Linked DNA regions of Homo sapiens. The protein of the gene in region 3 purifies or fractionates together with the protein of the main gene of each other region. This does not show direct contact. Each region holds a gene or a part of one and is shown on either strand. Other genes may lie near its edges. The genes, in order: QRICH1, OGFOD1, TPRN and PPP1R2.

Region 1 (6,331 bases), on a different chromosome or scaffold from region 3:
GCAAGACCTTGTCTCATTAAAAAAAAAAAAAAAAAAAAAACAGACAAAAGCCTGGTGCAGTGGCTCAGGCATGTAATCCCAGCACTTTGGGAGGTCGAGGGGGGCCGTGGAAATGAACTCCTCACCTGAGGTCAGGAGTTCGAGAACAGCCTGGCCAATATGGTGAAACCCCGATTCTACTAAAAATACAAAAAAATTAGCTGGGCTGGGTGGCGTGCGCCTGTAGTTCAAGCTACTAGGGAGGCTTGAGGCAGGAGAACCACTTGAACCTGGGAAACGGAGGTTGCATTGAGCCGAGATGATGCCATTGCACTCCATCCTGGGTGAGAAAACGAGACTTCGTCTCAAAAAAATAAAAATACAAAGAAACAAAACCCAGGCAAAAGAATAGAAATACGTCAATTCTGGTCGGGCACGGTGGCTCACGCCTGTAATCCCACCACTTTGGGAGGCCGAGGCGGGCAGATCATGAGGTCAGGAGATCGAGAGCATCCTGGCTAGCACGGTGAAACTTTCTCTCTACTAAAAAATACAAAAAAATTAGCTGGATGTGGTGGCGGGCGCCTGTGGTCCCAGCTACTTGGGAGGCTGAGGCAGGAGACTGGCGTGAACCCGGGAGACAGAGCTTGCAGTGAGCCGAGATTGTGCCACTGCATTCCAGCCTGGGTGACAGAGTGAGACTCTGTCTCAAAAAAAAAAAAATAAATGAAATAAAATGAATATATTCACATGGAAAAAAAATCAATTTCCATTTTAAGGAGTCATGTCTGTCTTATAAACATATGGAGTTATTTCAAAGAAGCATAGAAGACATTGTTCTTTTTTTTTTTTTTTTTTTTTGAGATGAACCTCCGCCTCCTGAGTTCAAGCAATTCTTCTGCCTCAGCCTCCCGAGTAGCTGGGACTACAGGCGCATGGTACCCCGCCTGGCTAATTTTTGTATTTTTAGTAGAGATGGGGTTTCACCATGTTGGCCAGGCTGGTCTTGAACTCCTGACCTCGTGATATGCCCGACTCGGCCTTCCAGCGTGCTAGGATTACAGGCATGAGCCACTGCACCTGGCCTATTTTTTTATTTTTATTTTTTTTAAATTTATTTTTCTTATTATTTTTTGAGATGGAGTCTTGCTCTGTTGCCCAGGCTGGAGTGCAGTGGTGCGATCGTGGCTCACTGCAACCTTCGCCTCCCGGGTTCAAGTAATTCTCCTGCCTCAGCTTCCCTAGTAGCTGGGACTACAGGCACCACACCTGGCTAATTTTTGTATTTTTAGTAGAGACAGGGTTTCACCATATTAGCTAGGCTGGTCTCAAACTCCTTGTGATCTGCCTGCCTCAGCCTCCCAAACTGCTGGGATTATAGGCGTGAGCCACTGTGCCTGGCCTATTTTATTTTATTTTTTTGAGACAGAGTTTTGCTCTTGTTGCCCGGGCTGGAGTGCAGTGGCGCGATCTCGGCTCACTGCAACCTCCGGCTGCTGGGTGCAAGTGATTCTCCTGCCTCAGCCTCCCGAGTAGCTGAGGTTACAGGTGCCCACCACCACGCCTGGCTAATTTTTGTGTTTTTGGTAGAGATGGGATTTCACCACGTTGGCCAGACTGGTCTTGAACTCCCAACCTCAGGTGATCCGCCCACCTCAGCCTCCCAAAGTGCTGGGGATTACAGGCGTGAGCCACTGCACCGGGCCCCATATGAATGTATTCAAACTGGACTAAGCTATGAAGAGCCATTGTTGGAGTAGATGTGAACCTTGAGGGGCCTCAAAGCCCAAGGAAGAGGTAAGGTTCTGAGGCAGTTCAGACTTCTTTTAGTCCATCACGGATTGAAGACTCACTCTGCAGAGCCATACAGGGGGCCCAAAAGAGGTATCAGGGATAAGAAACCCAAGAAACAGTGATTGCAATAAGATCTTCCCTTGGTACCTAAACGGAAAAAAGAAAAAAATTAGCAAACAGACCTATAGAAATGTAATAGATTGTTGTTTTGGAGTAACCTTTGTCCATGGTACCATCTTATGTTCTAATAATAAAATAATAAAAATAATAACTCATGTAGTGAAGAATTGCTGTGCATCAGGCACTATGCTAAGCTCCAGTAGGAGGAAATACAGAGGAGCCAGGCGCAGTGGCTCACACCTGTAATCCCAGTTTTGGGAGGCTGAGGATCACGAGGTCAGGAGATCGAGACCATCCTGGCTAACACGGCGAAACCCCGTCTCTACTAAAAATACAAAAAAATTAGCCGGGCGTGGTGGTGGGTGCCTGTAGTCCCAGCTACTTGGGAGGCTGAGGCAGGAGAATGGTGTGAATCCAGGAGGTGGAGCTTACAGTGAGCCGAGATCGCACCATTGCACTCCAGCCTGGGCGACAGAGTGAGACTCCATCTCAAAAAAAAAAAAAGAAAAAGAAAAAGAGGGAGATACAGAGGAGATACCAGTGAACAATTTGATTTTATACCAGCAAAAATGTCCAGGGTCTGTTTAAGGGAGGGCTGGCTTTCCTTTATTGTTACTTATTTTTTTTTTTTTACAATGCAGCTATATTTAAAAGCGTTTAGAAGTAAATGCTTGTTTACAGACCTCATACACCCCAAGAGCATTAGAGTATTTTCTTTTTTCATTATTAGTCTCATCAGAGTCCCAGAAATTGGGAACACTCAGATATCCTCATGGCTGCATGTTTTTCAGAAATACTTTAATTAATTTCTTTATTGCTTCTTACTAAGTCTTTTACTTGGAGCTAATTAAGAATCTTTTGTCTCTTTTAGAAGTTTCTCCATTTCTCTTTATTACGAAGGCTCAACTTTTGTGTCTTATGTGCAGCATCTTGAAGTTAAGTCTTCATTATTTTGTACAAGTTTTTGGTATTTTATGGTTTAGTTTCTTTTTCTTTTTTTTTTTTTTGAGATGGAGTTTTGCCCTTGTTGCCCAGGCCGGAGTGCAGTGGCATGGTCTTGGCTCACTGCAACCTCCACCTCCCAGGTTCAAGCGATTCTCCTGTCTCAGCCTTCCGAGTAGCTGGGATTACAGGCACGTGTCACCACACCTGGCTAATTTTTTTTGTATTTTTAGTAGAGGCGGGGTTTCATCATGTTGGTCAGGCTGGTCTCAAACTACTGACCTCAGGTGATCCACCCACCTCGGCCTCCCAAAGTGCTGGGATTACAGGTATGAGCCACCTCGTTCGGCAGGTTTAGTTTCTTTCAGATTTTGAAAGAAAATCGTACTATGATCAACCAGAATTACGTGTCTGTTACCATTACTACACTATAACCACTTGTATTTTTAGTAGAGATGGGGTTTCACCGTGATAGCCAGGATGGTCTCGATCTCCTGACCTGGTGATCCGCCTGCCTCGGCCTCCCAAAATGCTGGGATTACAGGCATGAGCCACCTCTTTCGGCCGGTTTAGTTTCTTTCAGATTTTGAAAGAAAATCATACTATGATCAGCCAGAATTATGTGTCTTACCATTACTACACTATAGCCACTGTGTAGAAAAAGATGATTTTTTTTTTTTTGAGACGGAGTCTTGCTCTGTCGCCCAGGCTGGAGTGCAGTGGCACGATCTTGGCTCACTGCAAGCTCCACCTCCCAGATTCACACCATTCTCCTGCCTCAGCCTCCCGAGTAGCTGGGACTACAGGCGCCCAACACCACACCCGGCTAATTTTTTTGTATTTTTAGTAGAGACGGGGTTTCACCGTGATAGCCAGGATGGTCTCGATCTCCTGATCTGGTGATCTGCCTGCCTCGGAAAGTGCTGGGATTACAGGCGTGAGCCTTAGATTAATACCACTTGTGGAAAATTCAGAAGAGTGTTTAACAGAAGAAACTTAATTACTCTGTGGTTCCATCATCTAGGCATAACTACTGTTAGCATTCCTTTTTATCATTTTTTGAGGTGGAGTCTCACTCTTTCCCCAGGCTGAAGTGCAGTGGCGCAGTCTCAGCTCACTACAACCTCCGCCTCCCGGATTCAAGCAATTCTCCTGCCTCAGCCTCTAGAGTAGCTGGGATTACGGGTGGCTGCCACCATGCCCTGTTAGTTTTTGTATTTTTAGTGGAGATGGGGTTTCACCATGTTGGCCAGGCTGGTCTCACAATCTTGGCTGGATGTGATGGCTCACGCCTGTAATCCTAGCACTTTGGGAGACCGATGCTGTGGATCGCTTGAGGTCAGGAGTTTGAGTACATCCTGACCAACATGGCGAAATCCCGTCTCTACTAAAATACAAAAATTAGCTGGGCATGGTGGCGGGTGCCCGTAATCCCAGCCACTTTGGAGGCTGAGGCAGGAGAATTGCTTGAACCTAGGAGGCGGAGGTTTCAGTGAGCCAGGATCGTGCCACTACGCTCCAGCCTGGGCGACAGAGCAACACTGTGTCTCAATAAAAATAAAAATAAAAAAGAATTTAGGCTGGGTGTGGTTGCTCATGCCTGTAATCCCAGCACTTTGGAAGGTGGAAGCGAGTGGATTACCTGAGGTTAAGAGTTCGAGACCAGCCTGGCCAACATGGCAAAACCTCATCTCTACTAAAAATATAAAAATTAGCCGGATGTGGGCCGGGTGCGGTGGCTCATACCTGTAATCCCAGCACTTTGGGAGGCTGAGGCGGGTGGATCATGAGTTTAGGAGTTCAAGACCAGCTTGGCCAAGATGGTGAAACCCTGCCTCTACTAAAAATACAAAAATTAGCCAGGCACGGTGGCAGGTGCCTGTAATCCTAGCTACTCGGGAGGCTGAGGCAGGAGAATCGCTTGAACCTGGGGGGCACGGAGGTTGCAGTGAGCCAAGATTGTGCCTCCTGGGTTCAAGCGATTCTCCTGCCTCAGCCTCCCAAGTAGCTGGGACTACAGGTATGCAGCACCACACCTGGCTAATTTTTTTTTTTTGAGATGGAGTCTCACTCTGTCACCCAAGCTGGAGTGCAGTGGCATGATCATAGCTCATTGCAGGCTCAAACTGCTGGGATCAAGCCATCCTATCCTCCTGCCTCGGCCTCCCAAGTAGCTGGGACTACAGGCGAGAACCACCATGCCAAGCTTAGTATTGATATTTTCTAATGGTTTTATGGAATTTTTCCTACCTCAAGCTTGTTTGTCTTTTAAATTATTACTATTATTTCTAAGAGATGGGATCTCACTGTGGTGCCCAGGTTGGAGTGCTGTGGCTATCCACAGACAGGATTCTACTACTGCAGTATGGAAGTTTTGACCTGCCCCATTTCCAACCTGGGGTGGTTCACCCCTCTTTAGGCAACCTGGTGATTCCCTGCTCCCTTGAAGTCACCATATTGATGCTGAACTTAGTGTGGACACCCGATTGGCATAGAGCACTATAGCCCAGAACTCCTGGACTACTCAAGCAATCCTCCTGTTTCAGTCTCTTGAGTAGCTGGGACTGCAGGCATGCACCATCATCCCAGGCTCCCCCCCCCCCTTTTTTTTTTTTTTTTGAGACAGAGTCTCACTTTGTCGCCAGGCTGGAGTGCAATGGTGCGATCTTGGCTCACTGCAACCTCCGCCTCCCAGGTTCAAGCGATCCTCCTGCCTCAGCCTCCCAAGTAGCTGGGATTACAGGCATGCTCTACCATGCCCAACTCATTTTGTATTTTTAGTAGAGACGGGGGTTCTCCATGTTAGTCAGGCTGGTCTCGAACTCCCGACCTCAGGTTATCCACCTTCCTTGGCCCCCCAAAGTCCATAGTGCTAGGATTACAGGCGTGAGTCACCACACCTGGCCTTTTTTTCTTTTTTTTTTTTTTTGAGACGCAGTCTTGCTCTGTCGCCCAGGCTGGAGTGCAGTGGTGTGGTCTCGGCTCACTGCAAGCTCTGCCTCCCAGGTTTACGCCAGTCTCCTGCCTCAGCCTCCCGAGTAGCTGGGACTACAGGCGCCTGCCACCACGCCAGGGTAATTTTTTGTATTTTTAGTAGAGACAGGGTTTCACCGTGTTAGCCAGGGTGGTCTCGATCTCCCGACCTCGTGATCCACCCACCTCAGCCTCCCAAAGTGCTGGGATTACAGGCGTGAGCCACCGTGCCCGGCTTTTTTTTTCTTTTTTTTTAAATGGAAGGCTTAAAGAATGGATTTTGATGGTTTATAGCAAGTAACTTTTTGAAGCTTTTATTTTTTCTGACAGCTGAATATCTAGCTTATTTGCCTTTTTGCTCAGGAAATAAATGTATATTTGGACTAGAGTTTCTTATAGTAACTTTTTAAAGGTACTATTCTAGAAATACTGGCTGGTAGGATTTATTTGGAGATGACATAGGCAGCAGAATTGTTTTAATCATATCTTTGGAACCTTGATTGACAAAAAATATGTTCTGGAC
Region 2 (3,500 bases), on a different chromosome or scaffold from region 3:
GGCCTATTCCAGCTATTGCAAGAGCAGAGAGGGAGAGGGAGGGCAGTAGGAGATGAGGCCAAAAAGGTAATAGTGGGGCCGGGCACGGTGGCTCATGCCTGTAATCCCAGAACTTTGGGAGGCCGAGGCGGGCAGATCATGAGGTCAGGAGTTCGAGACCAGCCTGACCAACGTGGTGAAACCCTGTCTCTACTAAAAATACAAAAATTAGCCAGGCGTGGTGGTGCATGCCTGCAATTCCAGCTACTCGGGAGGCTGAGGCAGGAGAATCATTTTAACCTGGAGGCGGAGGTTGCAGTGAGCTGAGATCTCGCCATTGCACTCCAGCCTGGGCAACAAGAGCAAAACTCCGTCTAAAAAAAAAACCTAATAGGTGACTTAAAGCCATTTTAAGTACTTTGGCTTTGACTTAAAGAAATGAGAAGATTTCTGAAGCAAAAAAAAGAAAAAAAAAGTCATTGGAGTTTTTGAGAACATTTTTTAAGATAATATCCACATAACACAATTATCCACATAATTTCAATTTCTTGAAAGTGTATAATTCATTGGATTTTAGTATATTCACAATGTTGGGCGATCATCAGCACTTCCTAATTTCAGAACTTTTTAACACTCCAAATAGAAACCCTTGTGCCAATTTTGTTAGTCATTCCCTCTTCTCTCCTCCCCCCAGCTCCTCGCAACCACTTGCCTATTCTGGACATTACATATAAATGGAATCATATAATATGTAGCCTTTTGCATCTGACTTCTTTCACTTAGCCTAATGTTTTCAAGGTTCATCCATGTTGTGGTAGTATCAGTACGTCATTCCTTTTAATGGCTGAGTTGTATTCCATTCTATGGGTATACCACATTTTGTTTATTCATTAAATTGTTTCCACTTTTTGGCAATTATAAAGCTGCTATGAACATTTGTGCACAAGTTTTTATGTGAACATATTTTTACATATTTTTAATTATCTTGGGTCTATTTACATTTTAAAAGAATACAATGACTTCAGTGACTGTCTAAGCAGGTGACAGTAGAAGGGAAAATGGTTGATACACTAATAGAATAATCCCGGGGAGACACAGATAGCTTGAACCAGGTGTTGGCCTTTGGCAGTGGAAGTAGTAAGAAGTGGGCTTCTCTGGATATACAGTGGTATGTCATTTACACTCTGAGAAATTTATTGTTAGGTGATTTCATTGTTGTTTCAGCATCATCGAGTGCATTTACATAAATCTAGATGGTAGAACTTAATATATACCTAGGCTATATGGTATAGCCTATTGTTTACAGGCCACGAACAACCTGGCATTTTACTCTACTGAATACTATAGACAATACAATAGGAAGTATTTGTGTATCTAAACATATCTAAATATAGAAAAGGTATAGTAAAAATAGGTGTTACTTTATGGGACCACTATCGTATCTGTTGCTGACAGAAAATATCATGTGGCGATTGCCTGTATTTTGAAGGTAGAGATAGCAGAGTTTCACGATGGACTGGATATAAGGTGAGAGAGGAATCAAGGATGACCTCCTTTTTGGCCTGAGCCCTCGGAAAGATCAAGCTGATATTAACTGTGATGGGGAAAACTGCAGGTGGAGCAGATTTAGAGGGAGAAGACCAGAAGTTTAGTTTTGAACTTAAGTGTCAGAAACTCATTAGACATCAAAGAGGAGGCAAAGCCATGAGACCCAATAGAAGCCTGTGTACCTAGGGAAGGAGGCCAAGCATTAGGATGCAGAATACTCTATCATTAAGAAGTCAGGTGGAAGAGGAAAACCTAGCAAAGGAAGCTGGTAAGAAATAGCCACTGAGGAAGAAGAGAAACCAAGAGAGCATGGTAACCTGAAAGTAAAGTGAAAAAAAAGTCTCCAGGAGGAAGGAGTGATATAGTAGGTCAAATGCTGCTGATGAGACAAGGAAGAACTGAAAACTGATTATCAGATTTAGTAATGTGGAGGTTATGGGTGATCTTGACAAGTGTAGTTTCAGTGCAGTAGTACAAGCGAAAGCCTGATTAAAATGGGCTTACCAGAGACTGACAGGAGAGGAACTGGACACAGTGCAGACAACTCTTATAAGAATAAAATTCTGCTGTCAAGAGAAGCACAGCAATGGGATGGTAGCTGAAGGGAAACTTAGGTCAAGAACTTTGTTTTTTTCTTATGAAAAGAACAGTTTTTTTTTTCTTTTTGTTATGTTGAAGGGAATGATCCAGAGAGAAAGAAAAACTAATGTAGTTTCCTCAACTGTGAAACAGGTATAGTAATGGGATTGTTTTGAGGATTTAATGAATAAATATAAAGCACTTAGCATGGCATAAAGTATGCACTCAATAATGCTTGCTTTAAAAAATACAGAATACTGGGCAAGTCCTAATGACAGAGTTGGTTATGGGAGTTGGAAGATGTCAGAGACCCAATTATCAAGTCAATTCATACCACAAGCAAAGAAAAGAGCATGGATGAGGATTAAAGGAGCAGGAGAATGAAACCAGATTTTACATCTACTGTCTTAGGGTGAAGAGTTCCTGTCCAAAAGGGATCAACAGTAAAAATTATTCACAGTAGAGTTTCACCAAACTTCCATGTGGATCCAAAGTAATGGCAGCTCCTTTTTTTTTTTCAATCACCCAAGGCTCTTTTTATTATTTTGCCTTATATCTTCCAGTTTTGTTTTTTTTTTTTTGAGGTGGAGTCTCACTTTGTCACCCAGGCTGGAGTACAGTGGCGCGATCTCAGCTCACTGCAACCTCCACCGCCTGGGTTCAAGCGATTCTCCTGCCTCAGCCTTCCGAGTAGCTGGGATTATAGGGGCGTGCCACCACGCCTGGCTAATTTTTTGTATTTTTAGTAGATACGGGGTTTCACTGTGTTAGCCAGGATGGTCTCCATCTCCTGACCTTGTGATCTGCCCGCCTCAGCCTCCCAAAGTGCTGGGATTACAGGCATGAGCCACTGTGCCCGGCCATCTTCCAGTATTTTTAATCTTCCAAATTGCATGAAGTAAAAATTATTGTGATGTTTCAATTTTAATAATCAGATGCGTATGGCCCCAAATCAACAAGAGGCCAAGGGTGCGATAATCACAACAGCAGGTAACTGCGGTTTTTAATTAACCTGTGCAACCTTACCATGGAAAGCAGTTTAGTTTTCAGCTTTCTGAATTATTAAGAGTCATATCTTTCATGTATTTATCCTGGTTAATTCAGTCATGTGTATAAGGTCCAAAGACAGAAAGATCTGGGGAAGGTCAGGATACAACCATCTGACCAATCAGCTCTAGTGTAAAAGAATAAGAGAGAGAAATTCGTTATTTACTCTCTTATCCCAGATAAAATAAAATGGGAAAATGCAAAAAAAAAAATTATTCTTCATCTTTTTAATCTTTCTTTTTTTTTTCCCCCCCCAATTTGAAGCACAGATGTCCCTGAGGTTTACAAAGGATTCATGTACTGAAAGATATACCCCCAAACTGGGGAAACCAATGACCTGTATTTCT
Region 3 (6,142 bases):
CCAAACTACCCTACCTCCCGCACCCTGCCAGGCCTCTGCACCCTGCCAGGCCCGGGTGCGTGGCAGAGCTTCAGCCCCGGGGCAGCAACACCTTCACAGTGGTGCCCAAGAGGAAGCCAGGGACTCTGCAGGACCAGCACTTCAGTCAGGCCAACAGGGAGCCTCGGCCACGGGAGGCCGAGGAGGAGGAGGCTAGTTGCCTCCTGGGGCCCACGTTGAAGAAGCGCTACCCCACCGTGCATGAGATCGAGGTGATTGGCGGCTACCTGGCCCTGCAGAAGTCCTGCCTCACCAAGGCTGGCTCCTCAAGAAAGAAGGTCAGTGGTGGGGGCAGGGCCACTGGCTGGCAGGGAGAGAGTGACAGCTCACAGAACTGTGGGGGCAGCACCTGCCCTGATCCCAGGACGCTTGGCCTGGGCAAAGGATGGTTTCTACATGGACTTGAGGCGAGCTGGGGCTGGGTGGGCCGTGCTGGGTCCAGGGCCCCAGTGGAGCCCCCTGACTTGGGCCGTGGGGACAGCTGGCCTGCTGTGTGCCTTGCCAGGCTGCTGGAGAGCGACAGGGCAGACAGTGCTATGTCCCTTGCCAGTTGTTGTGGCTCATCTGGAATTAGCTGGGCGGGTCTGTCCCTTTGTGAGTCCAGCTGAAAGAAGCAGACCTGGGCTTGTGGGTTCCTCCCTGGGCTTGGCTTTGAGGGGTGGCCTCACATGGTCTCCTGGAGGCCCGCTGCATGGGCGCCAGGCGCCACGCTATGAATGGGAAGGGCCAGATGATCGGGGTTGGCTGGATCCTCGCATCACAGTCAGCCTTGGGGTGCAGCCCACCAGCCAGTTGGGAGAGGGCCATCAGCTCCCCAGAAGGCACACTGGTTGGGAGCTGGGCAGGAGTGCCGTGTATGCCTGTTCTGGGCCTGGGAAGCTTGCTGGGGAGAAGGGGCCTTCGGAGGCTCTGAGCCAGCCAGGCAGGGGAGTCTCCCTCTTGGCCAGTGGCCTGGAATCCTCTGGGCACAGGAAAAAAAATCTTCAGATTCTTTCTGGTAATTCCTGCACCTGTATTTGTTCCCTGGGGCAAATTCCAAGGGCAGCTCCATGTGACTTCCCGGTCTGCGGTGACCTGTCAGGAAGCAGGTGTACCTTTCCTGGGGACTGAGGGGGGGCGCCTGGGGCGCCTCCCTTGGGTCTTCCTATCCAGGCACTGCCCCAGAGCCATTGCTGGCTAGGCTCACCCCTGAGGCGGGCTGTCCTCCAGCCTCAGTTTCCCCAGGCTGGGGATGGGACCTTGCAGGCTCCCTCAGCAGATAGGCTGCTGCCTCCCTCTGTTTGCTTCCTGCCCGGGATTGGCCTTGGCATTGCGCCTCTCCCTGTGCCATACTCCCCTCCTGGAACCAGGGCGTTGGTGCCCCTGCCGGCTCTATCTGCCGGCCCAGGCATCCGTGCTAACCCTCCTGAGGTGCTTCCAGTGGGGGCTTGGGGCTGGGTCCAGGGCCCCTCCCACTCCTGGAGCCACGTGGGTCTATCTCCCCGACCCTCGCCCGAGCATCACCCCAGCCCATCAAGGTGGGGTCAGTCTGATAGCCACAGCCTCTCTCCTCCAGCTCCTGTCTGCCTCTCCCTCCCCTGCGTCTGTACCTTTGGCCCTGGCTGCTGTGTGAGGTGGGCACCTCCTGGGCTTGCCCCAGAGGTGGCAGTGGGGACAGCTCCCCCTTTGTAGAGAGAAACTGCGCCTCAGCTTGGGAGTCAGACGGGGTCATGGGGCTTGTGGGGCGAGTACGGAGTTCAGGTTTCTGTTTCTAGAACCCCTCCCCTTAACCTGTGTGGCCATCCCTGGGAGCCTGGCTTCTTCCTGGGACTTGAGGCCACTGCCTAGAGTCTGGCCATCTTGCCCTCAGAAGGGACAGAACTGGGCTGGGCGCGGTGGCTCACACCTTGTAATCCCAGCACTTTGGGAGGCCGAGGCGGGTGGATCACGAGGTCAGGAGTTCAAGACAAGCCTTGCCAAGGTGGTGAAACCCCGTCTCTACTAAGAAGATATAAAAAAATTAGCTGGGCGTGGTGGCGGGCGCCTATAATCCCAGCTATTCAGGAGACTGAGGCAGGAGAATTGCTTGAACCCGGGAGGCGGAGCTTGCAGTGAGCCGAGATCGCGCCATTGCACTCCAGCCTGGGCGACAGAGTGAGACTCTGTCTCAAAAAGAAAAAAGCAAAGAAGGGACAGAACTGTGGGGGTCATTTGCGGCTGGGTTAGGGTCAGAAGGGCAGGGTGGGGGCCGGAGGGCCAACAGGAGCAGGAAGATGCAGTGGGGGAGAGGCTGAGCCTGGGAAACAGGCCCTGGACCAGCAGGAGGGAGGAGCTCGGGCCAGCCTGAAGGGGTGGGGGTCCAGATGGACGATACCTGGCATGGCCAGGTGGCCCGGGCAGGGCCCTGCCAGAGCAGCATGACCTGCTGGCTGTGACTTCCCGCCTGGGTACAGGCCAGCTGCCCTGCCTGGGAAGAGCCAGAATGTCCATCAGGAGGGGACAGAGGCGTGGGGCTGCCCTGCCTTTCAGAATGGCTTGCTGGCCTCGGCACGGTGGGCTGTGGGGCAGGGCTGTCCCATGTACTCTGTGGCCCCTGGGCCAGGAGCACTCACTGGTGGGGGTGCGAGGTGCCCCTGCGGGTCCTGTGCCTGGCCTTGTCTGACCACCCTGGCCAGCCTTTTTTTATTTTTTGTTTTTTGAGACAGAGTCTTGCTCTGTCGCCCAGGCTGGAGGGTAGTGGCAGGATCCCGGCTCAGGGCAAACTTCATCTCCCAGGGTTCAAGCGATTCTCCTGCCTCAGCCTCTCAAGTAGCTGGGATTACAGGCGCCTGCCACCATGCCCAGCTAATTATCGTATTTTTAGTAGAGACGAGGTTTTACCATATTGGCCAGGTTGGTCTCGAACTCCTGACCTCAGATGATCCGCCTGCCTTAGCCTCCCAAAGTGCTGGGATTACAGGCGTGAGCCACCGTGCTGACCCCAGCCTTTGGTTGGGACCACTGGCTGTGACCCCCGGGCGTGGGGGTGGAGTGCAGGGATTGCAGGGCCCGGAGTCTAGCAGGACCTGACTGTGGGCCAACGGCTCACTGTGCACCTCAGCGGCTGGCGGTGCTGCTGCTTTTCCTGGGGTACAGGTGAAGGGCAGCTCTTCAGTGGAGTTGTCTGGGTGGTGGGAGTCGGTGAGGGGCCTGCCCCAGGGCTGGCTGTGCCTGCACAGGGTATGATACCCTTGCCCGCCTCCGAGGGGTGCAGCCCTGCTCTGGGCAGTGGGGAGCTGCTGGCCTGTGTGCCGGGGTGGGGGCCTGCCTGGCAGGCACAGGCCCACTTAAGTTATCCATTGGCAGAAGCGGCAGGTGCCCCGTCTTGCAGGGCTGAGCTTGGAGCAGACTGCTGTGTGCTGCAGCCACGCCCGGGCTGCTTTCCTGGAGGGTGGGACACCCATTCTCATCCTCACACCTGCCTCCCTTGAGACTCGGCGCTGTAGCTTTTCCTCTTCGTGGAGCACCACCTGGCCTGGCTCCTACCTGTCTGGCGGCCCCTTCCCGTCCCCTCTGCCCTACTCCCCTCCTCCCCTCTTGGCTCTCTGCCCAGCTGGAGCGTGTCAGTGTCCCCAGGGCTCAGTCCTGGACACCCAGGGCCGTCCGCCCTCACCTGCTGTGCAACTTCCGCCTCCACTCCCAAGGCCTCGCTCTCTGATCCTTAGACCCAAGAGCCACCCTGACATCTGCCCTTCCTACTGACACCACCTCCTGGCCAGCACCAAGCCCCAGGCTGGGCTCCTCCCTGCCTCTACCCCTGTGCAGGCAGATCCTGGGTGGCCAGAGGCTCTCACTGTTGTTGGCTGAGTCCCTTCTTGTCAGTTTTCCTTTCCTTCTCGTCTCTCCGCCAGCTCTTCCCATAGGTGCCGCCTAGGTGGTCCTTCTGAAGCCGGGAACCCCAGGAGCGGCCTGGACGCTCCTCCCTCAGCTTTCTCATGGGTGGAGGCCGTGCCTGGCGCTGGGGCCACACTTGACTCAGGGAGCACCCAGCTTCCCGGGAGCCTGCTCTGGGCATTGCACTCGTGCAGCCTGGTCTAGGGTCCGGCCACCCGTGGGAGCCTTGGCTGGGGCTGCGTGGGGGATGGGAGGCAGGTAGCTGTGTGCAGGGAGGAGGGAGAGGCGGGGCTGGGCTCAGCTCACACCTCCATCTGGGCAGGTTGGGGCTGGCTGCTTGGCCCTTTGTCCCAGGTGGAGGCCAGGCCCTTTGGTAACCAAAGCTAGGTGTGCACAGGCAGGGTGGGTGGAGCGAGAACAGAAGGGTCCTGAGAAGCCGGGAGGCTCTGCTGGGAGGCTGGGCTGAGCTGGGACCCACCTGCCTGCTCTGTTGGCTGTGCCAGGCAAAGTCCCTGATAGGCTGCGGCCAGGTGCGTGCGGTCCCAGACCCTGGCCACACCCTCTGCCCATCCTGCGTCTCGGGGTCTTCAGGCTGCCCACCGTATGAGTCACGGGGTGTCCTGTCCCCACAGTGGGAGGGGAGGGCTGTGCGAGTCAGCAGGCACCAGCCCAGCTGAGGAGACCTGGGGAGGCAGGACGTGACCAGAGCCCCGGGCCCCAGCTGAGGGCAGACAGGGGCTGCCTGTCCACCCCCCGCCCCGCACCGCCTGGCCAGGCTGTACCAGGCTCAGGGCCCATGTGCACCCAGCCCCCGCGGCCCCCCTGCTGGGACCGGTCATGTGCACGAGTGAGGGCACTAATCCCGCGGCCCTGGCAGCCAGCCCTTCTGTGTTCTCAGCCGTGGGGGCTGGGCCTGGAGGGCTTCGGGGTCATCTGGGTTAGCTCCACATATCCAGGGCGACTGGAAACCCCATTTGCTGCTGGACTTCGGGGCTGTGGGAGAGCTCTAGCCACCAGCCCTGTCCTGCCTTGAGCACCTCCACCTGGGGTATCTGTCCCAAAGCATGAGTCTGGGAGGGCCGGGTGACCCCCTCCCCAAGTGGGCTGGCAGTGGGTGGGTGCCTGTGAGGTCTGTCCCAGCCTCTCCCTGCCTGGCCTCCTGTGGGATGAGCGTTGGAGGGCCAGGTGGGCCTAGCCACAGGCAGGGCAGTTAAGGGACAGGAGCGGGTGCTTTCCTCCTTGTTTTGTCTGGCCCAGGTGGCCTCCCCCTCCCCCGCTCATCCATGCAGACGGCTGGGGTGCCGGGGCCTGGGGTAGGGGTGCAAGCAGGCAGCTGAGTTGCCCAGCAGGGCTCTGTGTGAGCTGTGCTGAGAGGGGAAGCTGGGGGTTTGGGCACAAAGCGTGGCCCCCCAGCTGTGGGAGGCGGGGGTATTCGTGGTGAGAAGGGACCTGAGGGTACACCTGGCTGTGTGGGCCGTGTGGCCGCTGTGGGAGAGAGCATGATGGCAAGAGTGTGTGCCCTTGGCCCTGTCCTGGCAGCCCTGTGTGGCCTCCTCGGCTGCCTCCTGAGAGGCCGTCTCGTCCTGTGCCTGGCTGCGGTGGTTCTCTGCCTGGGGCCCGGCTCCTGCCTCCGGGTCCTTCTAGGGGAGGAGGAGGAACTTGAGCTGCTGGTGTCCTGTGCCCAGGAAGAGTTTAATATTTCGAGCTCCCTCAGGGCTGCTTCCATCTGCTGCAAGCGGGGGCCGCTCATATTCATTAGGGACCACTGGGGCCGGGCTGAGTGCAGCTGAGCAGTGGGAGCTCGGCTGTTGTGGGGAGCTTAGCCCCATGCAAGCCCCGTTCAGGGGAGGTGGAGAGTCCTGACCATTGGTCCCCACTGCCCCCATTACCCCTGGGAACCAGCAGCCCTGCCTGGGCTTCAAGGCCACTGGGAGAAGGAAAGAATTTGCTCAGATGTGAAATCTTGCAGCCTACGAAGTGGGGATGGAGGACGAGGGCCAGAGGGGCAGCAGGGTGAGGAAGGGGTCACTGCTGGGGTTGCTGGCACCCAGGCTCAGTGGAGGCAGCCCCCTACTCTGCACAGCCGCAGGCCAACTCTCAACTATGTTAGGTGGGTGATGGTGCCTGAGGCTACTGCCTGGCCTTGACGGCTCACAGAGGCCCCTGTTCACAGTGGGGGGTCCATGCTCTGCTGGATTGTCCAGGCATCCAGTAAGCCAGGACATGAACTTGGCTTTAGAGAGAGGCCCCA
Region 4 (6,331 bases), on a different chromosome or scaffold from region 3:
TGGCCAACATGGTGAAACCCCGTCTCTACCAAAAATACAAAAATTAGCCAGGTGTGGTGGCAGACACCTTTAATCCCAGCTACTCAGGAGGCTGAGGCAGGAGAATCGCTTGAACCCAGGAGGCAGAGGTTGCAGTGAGCCGAGATCGTGCCATTGCACTCCAGCCTGGGCGACAAGAGCAAAACTCTGTCTCAAAAAACAAAAATAATGGCCCGGCCTGGTGGCTCACACCTGTAATCCCAGCACTTTGGGAGGCCAAGGCAGGCAGATCACGAGATCAGGAGTTCAAGACCAGCCTGGCCAACATGGTGAAACCCTGTCTCTCCTAAAAATACAAAAATTAGCTGGGCGTGGTGGTGCGCGCCTGTCATCCCAGCTACTCGGGAGGCTGAGACAGGGGAAGCGCATGAACAGGGAAGGTGGAAGTTGCAGTGAGCCGAGATGGCGCCACTGTACTCCAGCCTGGGCAACAGAGTGAGACTCCGTCTCAAAACAAAACAAAAATAATAAAGTACTTAGAGAGAACGTCTATTGCTCTTCAAGTAGGTTTGAATACACCATTTCTGAGCAAACCTTTATTTTTCTAGATTAGAAATAAACAGAGCTGTAATTTATTTGCAATCTAATGATTTAGTGGTGTCTGAGTTTGATGAGGTTTTCTCTATAGTTTTATTGTTTGAATCTTTATGTTCTGAGTGTTAACAGATATCCCAGAAAGAAATTATGCCAAGGAAGTACTCCTGTTGTGTTTTTTACCGAACAGTTACTGATATATAGATCAAAAATGCCTACTGACTTCAGCGAATGTATAGATTTTGACTTGCATTATTTTATAGGCCAAATGAAGGCTAAGCATGTCATAGTATGGTAATGTTTTGAATGCCTGATATAGATACTAAATATTGTGTTTTTAATATGTGGGCACTAGGTGTTCTATATTTACTGACATTTTATTGTAGTTACTTAATGGTTTTTACCCTGAGTCAGCTTCTATTCCAAGAAAGTATATGTGAAAATAGAGGTTGGCCATCAAATAGAAGTTGAAATGTTAAATTTGGACATTTGTGAATTTTGATATTCAGGTTTATCTTTTTCTGCATTGGGAAAAACGTTTTTTCTTTTTAATTTTAGCAAAAAATCCCAGAAGTGGGATGAAATGAACATCTTGGCGACGTATCATCCAGCAGACAAAGACTATGGTTTAATGAAAATAGATGAACCAAGCACTCCTTACCATAGGTAATGTTACGTAGACGTCATTCCTCTTGTGACTTACTTCCATTTTGCATTTCATATGAACGTCTGGATAACAGCCTATTTGAATTTGTTTTATTGTAGATTTGTTACTGGAGCACTAGTGAAGTCAGTAACCTAACTGCAATTTGTTTAGTAATGGTTTAAGTGATGTGTAAGTTTAAAATTAAGAAAGCCATTTTGTACATTATAATGGTAGTAGTAAATGTTTATTTGTTGCACCTCAGTGGTTGCTAGCTACTAATGGTGCATATATTAGTTTTAACTTCCATGAAAGGAAGATGAGATATGGGCTTGTTTGCTTCCCAAGTAGAAATCTGGGGTTTACTCAGTCTCTTTGCAGAGAAGCATAACTGCATGGATGGTAACCCACTGAAAGATAGGTGTCATTATTACTGTTTATGTCTTCATTTTTTAACTTAATGTAATATTGTTGTTCAGATCATTACATGTAATTTTTGACAATTTCAAGTCTCAGAATTTCCTAAATGAATTGTGAAATTACATTACGCAGCAGTAACCAGTATGAAGACAAAAATAATGCAAGAAGCATTATGAGAAGATGAGGATTCTAAATAGGTATAGATACCTAATTAAGATAATACCTTGGGCCGAGCACTGTGGCTCACGCCTGTAATCCCAGCACCTTGGGAGGCCAAAGTGGGCGGATCACCTGAGGTGAAAGACCAGCCCGGCCAACGTGGTGAAACCCCATCTCTACTAAAAAAAAAAAAAAATACAAAAATTAGCCAGGCATGGTGGCGGGCACCTGTAATCCCAGCTACTCGGGAGGCTGAGGCAGGAGAATTGCTTGAACCCGGGAGACGGAGGTTGCTGTAAGCCAAGATCACACCATTGCACTCCAGCCTGGGCGACAAGAGCAAAACTCTGTCTCAAAAAAAAAAAAAAAAGATAATACCTTGGCTGGGCATGGTGACTCTTGCCTGTACTCCCAGCACTTTGAGATTACAGAGGCAGAGGTGGGAGTATTGCTTCAGGCCAGGAGATCAAAACCAGCCTAAGCAACATAGTAAGACTCTTTCTACAAAAAAAAAAAAAAAAAAAAAAAAAAAAAATAGTTATGCCCTACCTACCTTGTATTGAAAAAAATAAAAGATTTCCAAGATTAAAATATTTTGTCATTGAATTAAGACAGCATAAATCCAAAAGTTACCATTAAAATAGAGGTAACTGCTGTTTCCATTTGTTCTGTAGTGAAAGAAGAGTTAAGAACTACTGTATTTTAAGTCAGTGGGTGAAAACTTTGGAAGATAATTTGAAATAACCTGTTACTAACAAAAACAGTAAAAATAAAAAACTTGAAGATATTAAAGACTGATGAGCATAAAAAGAAATAATGAAATAGGTACAGATGCTGAAACTCAATACTGATGAAATTTGAGTGAAGAAATACACAGTTTTTTGTGGTATATATGTATGTACCATGGAATATATATAAAAAGGAACAAAATAATGGCATTCACAGCAACCTGGATGGAGTTGGAGACCATTACTCTAAGTGAAGTAACCCAGGAATGGAAAACCAGACCTTGTATGTTCTCACTTATAAGCGGGAGCTAAGCAAAGGCATAAGAATGATACAGTGGACTTTGGGGATGGGAGGGGTGAGAGGGGGTTGAGGGATAAAAGACTACACATTGGGTGCCGTGTACACTGCTCGGGTGATGGGTGCACCAAAATCTCAGCAATTACCACTGAAGAACTTACCTGTGTAACCAAACACCACTTGTTTCCCAAAAACCTATTGAAGTAAAAATAAATTGAGGGGAAGAAAAACAATAAAATTACAATTAGTTAAAAAAAAATACGCATGCTAAAAAGAGGTTTATATTCTTATTTTTCTCCTAAATTGCAGGTATATACTTTAAAAATCTTAAAAAAAAAAAAAGATACAAGATCTGGCTATGTTGCCCAGTGCAGTGGCTATTAACAGGCACAGTTATAGCACACTACAGCCTGGAACTCCCGACTCAAGTGATCCTCCCTCCTCCGCCTCCCAGGTAGCTGACTATGGGCACACATCACCGTGCCCAACTTCTAAAATGTATATTAAAACCTTTATTGTACCAGAATCCAAAATCAGAGTGTACTTTCTTTTTACTAAATGTAGTGGCCATCCGTCACTCACTTGTGTTAGTTGGGGATAAGTATCCTAGGAGAATTAAGATCAGACATGATTTAAAAAAATAGTTGAGGCCAGGTGCAGTGGCTCAACGCCTGTAATCTCAGCACTTTGGGAGCCTGAAGCAGGAGGATCGCTTAGCCTCCCAAAGAATGCTGTTTTTTATTTTTTATTTTTTATTTTTTTGAGACAGAGTCTCACTCTGTCACCCGGGCTGGAGAGCAGTGGCACGATCTCAGCTCACTGCAAGCTCCATGTCTCAGGTTCAAGAGATTCTCGTGCCTCAGCCTCCCAAGTAGCTGGGATTACAGGCACCCACTACCACGCCTGGCTAGTTTTTGTATTTTTAGTATTGACAGGGTTTCACCGTGTTGGCCAAGCTGATCTCAAACTCCTGACCTCAAGTGATCCACCCACCTCAGCCTCCCAAAGTGTGGGATTACAGGCATGAGCCACCACGCCCTTCCCCAAAGAACTCTTGCCCAGGAGTTCAAGACCAACCTGGGCAACAGAGTGAGACTCTTATCTCCACAAAAAAAATTAAAACAAATTAGACTAAGCACAGCAGCTCACGCCTGTAATCCCAGCACTTTGGGAGCCTGAGGCGGGTGGATCACCTAAGGTCAGGAGTTCAAGACCAGCCTAGCCAACATGGTGAAACCCCGTCTCTACTGAAAATACATAAAAATTCCCAGATGTGGTGGTGGGCGCCTATAACCCCAGCTACTCGGGAGGCTGAGGCAGGAGAATCACTTGAACCTGGGAGGCAGAGGTTGCAGTGAGCTGAGATCGCGCCATTGCACTCCAGCCTGGGCAACCAGAGCGAAACTCTGTCTCAAATAAAAAAAGTAAAATTATCCAGAGGTGGTGGTGTGTACTTGTAGTCCCAGCTAGCTAGGAGGCTGAGGCAGGAGGACTGTCTGAGCCCTGGAGGTTGTAGCTGCAATTAGCCATGATCACGTCATTGCACTCCAGCCTGGATGACAGAGGGAGACCTTATCTCTAAAGAAAAAGAAAAAAAATTTCAGAATAGCTATGGCCATTATTTTTTGACTGTTTATAAATATAATTTGAATGGTAGATATTTGCCATTCAAATAACCAGAAAAGTTATTTGGTCCCTAAGTAATTGAGGCTATGTGCATGCAGAGATAACCTGTGTCCTGCTTTTATCAGTTCACTGCTCAGTTTTATCATTTCTTTCCATGACTTTCTTTTTTCTTTTTGAGAGTTTCATTTGGCCAGCCATGGTAGCTCATCCTTGTAATCCCAGCACTTTAGGAGGCTGAGGTGGGAGGATTGCTTGAGCTCAGGAATTGGAGATGAGCCTGGGCAACATAGAGAGACCCCGTCTCTACAAAAAATAAAAAGAATTAAGCCAGGAATGGTAGCACATGCCTGTAGTCCCAGCTACACAAGAGGCTTAGGTGGGAGTATCACTTGAGCCCGGGAAATTGAGGCTGTAGTGAGCCGTGATGGTGCCACTGTACTCCTGGGTGACAGAATGAGACCCTGTCTCAAAAAAAAAAAAAATTTTATTTAAGTGAAGATGCTTTTTATAGAAACATCATGTCTTATTATCTAAGAATCTCACAGTTAGTATACAAGAAGTTATTGCTTCTGTATACATGTACATATATAAACATAATTCAGTAAATTTTACAACTAGAATTTTCTATAGAACGATTCTATAAATTAACAAAATGTTTATTTTACCTTACTTTGCTTGATTAAACTCAATAACATAGATCAATTTCAACTTCCCTTAGAAAAAAGAACGTCATCTAAACTATAGACTTACTTGTCACCTTAATTAACCAGGAAATGTATAAACTGGCAGTATTTTATAAATAGCTGAGTTCTGCTTTATATACTTTGCAGTGGCTTAAGAATTAAGGTTGCCCATTTTTGCATTGAAGTGGGGAGCAAATTTTTCATTAGAGGGTAGAGTGAGAAAGCTAAATCACTTGTAAACTTCCGAAATTAGATCTTTGGGATCGAATTTTGTTACTTTACTCAGTCTTGTGTCTGCGTAGATCTTTTGTCTCTATCTTAAGATTGATGTAGAAATACATGTTCTAAAACCAGACAGTGATTTACTTTGCATTACTTGTTCCTTCCCACTGGATGGAATAATTGGAACTTTGTAGTATTTTTTTTTCCAGATCATTTACGTTTTCAGTACAGTTATTCCTCATTATCCATGGAGGTTTCAGGACCTCCCTCAGATACCGAAATCCTCAGACACTCAAGTCTCTGATATAAAATGGCATTGTAGATGTATATAATTATGCACATCCTCCTGTATGTGTTAAATCATCTCTGTGTTAGTTATATTACCTAATAAAATGTAAATACTGTGCAAATAGTTGTTACACACTGTATCATTTAGGGAATAATGATAAGAAAAAAGTCTACATGTTTAGTACAGAGGAAATTTTACTTTTCTCTGGCTATTTTCAATCCACGGTTGAATTCATGGATGTGGATCCTGTGGATATGGCAGGCAGACTGTATTTATGTGTTTTTTTTAATCATTTGGAGTCTTTTCTTGATTGGGTGCTGTACTTTTAAGTATTTGTATTGAATAGGAACTATATAAAGTTAAACCTCAAAGATATCAACAGAGCTATAAATATATTGATATGTTAAGTAGGTTGATGGAATTGTTTTTCTCCCTTGTTTTTGTGGCTGAAAATGTATGTTTCAGGTATTAATTACAATGTGCTTGTCATACTAGTATGATGGGGGATGATGAAGATGCCTGTAGTGACACCGAGGCCACTGAAGCCATGGCGCCAGACATCTTAGCCAGGAAGTAAGTACTAATGACCGGAGCACATTTTCACTTAGGCTGTTTATAATCGTGCAGAGTTGAAAGCAGCCTGCGTGGCTGTCCCTGTATGAGCGGGAAGAAAAGGCTGTTGATCAACAT

Evidence for each region.
Region 1: the proteins of TPRN (region 3) and QRICH1 purify together in Homo sapiens (affinity purification with mass spectrometry; one large-scale study listed by BioGRID and IntAct). This does not show direct contact.
Region 2: the proteins of TPRN (region 3) and OGFOD1 purify together in Homo sapiens (affinity purification with mass spectrometry; one large-scale study listed by BioGRID and IntAct). This does not show direct contact.
Region 4: the proteins of TPRN (region 3) and PPP1R2 purify together in Homo sapiens (affinity purification with mass spectrometry; one large-scale study listed by BioGRID and IntAct). This does not show direct contact.

Annotation. Positions count from the first base shown.
Region 1 is NC_000003.12:49,082,328-49,088,658, reverse strand, and holds part of QRICH1 (transcriptional regulator QRICH1), read left to right. Parts: intron 1-6,331. UniProt on the Homo sapiens protein: Transcriptional regulator that acts as a mediator of the integrated stress response (ISR) through transcriptional control of protein homeostasis under conditions of ER stress.
Region 2 is NC_000016.10:56,454,554-56,458,053, reverse strand, and holds part of OGFOD1 (prolyl 3-hydroxylase OGFOD1), read right to left. Parts: intron 1-3,500.
Region 3 is NC_000009.12:137,193,162-137,199,303, reverse strand, and holds part of TPRN (taperin), read left to right. Parts: coding exon 1-317; intron 318-6,142. UniProt on the Homo sapiens protein: Essential for hearing. Required for maintenance of stereocilia on both inner and outer hair cells. Necessary for the integrity of the stereociliary rootlet.
Region 4 is NC_000003.12:195,524,702-195,531,032, reverse strand, and holds part of PPP1R2 (protein phosphatase inhibitor 2), read left to right. Parts: intron 1-1,131; coding exon 1,132-1,239; intron 1,240-3,130; coding exon of another isoform or gene 3,131-3,275; intron 3,276-6,136; coding exon 6,137-6,214; intron 6,215-6,331. UniProt on the Homo sapiens protein: Inhibitor of protein-phosphatase 1.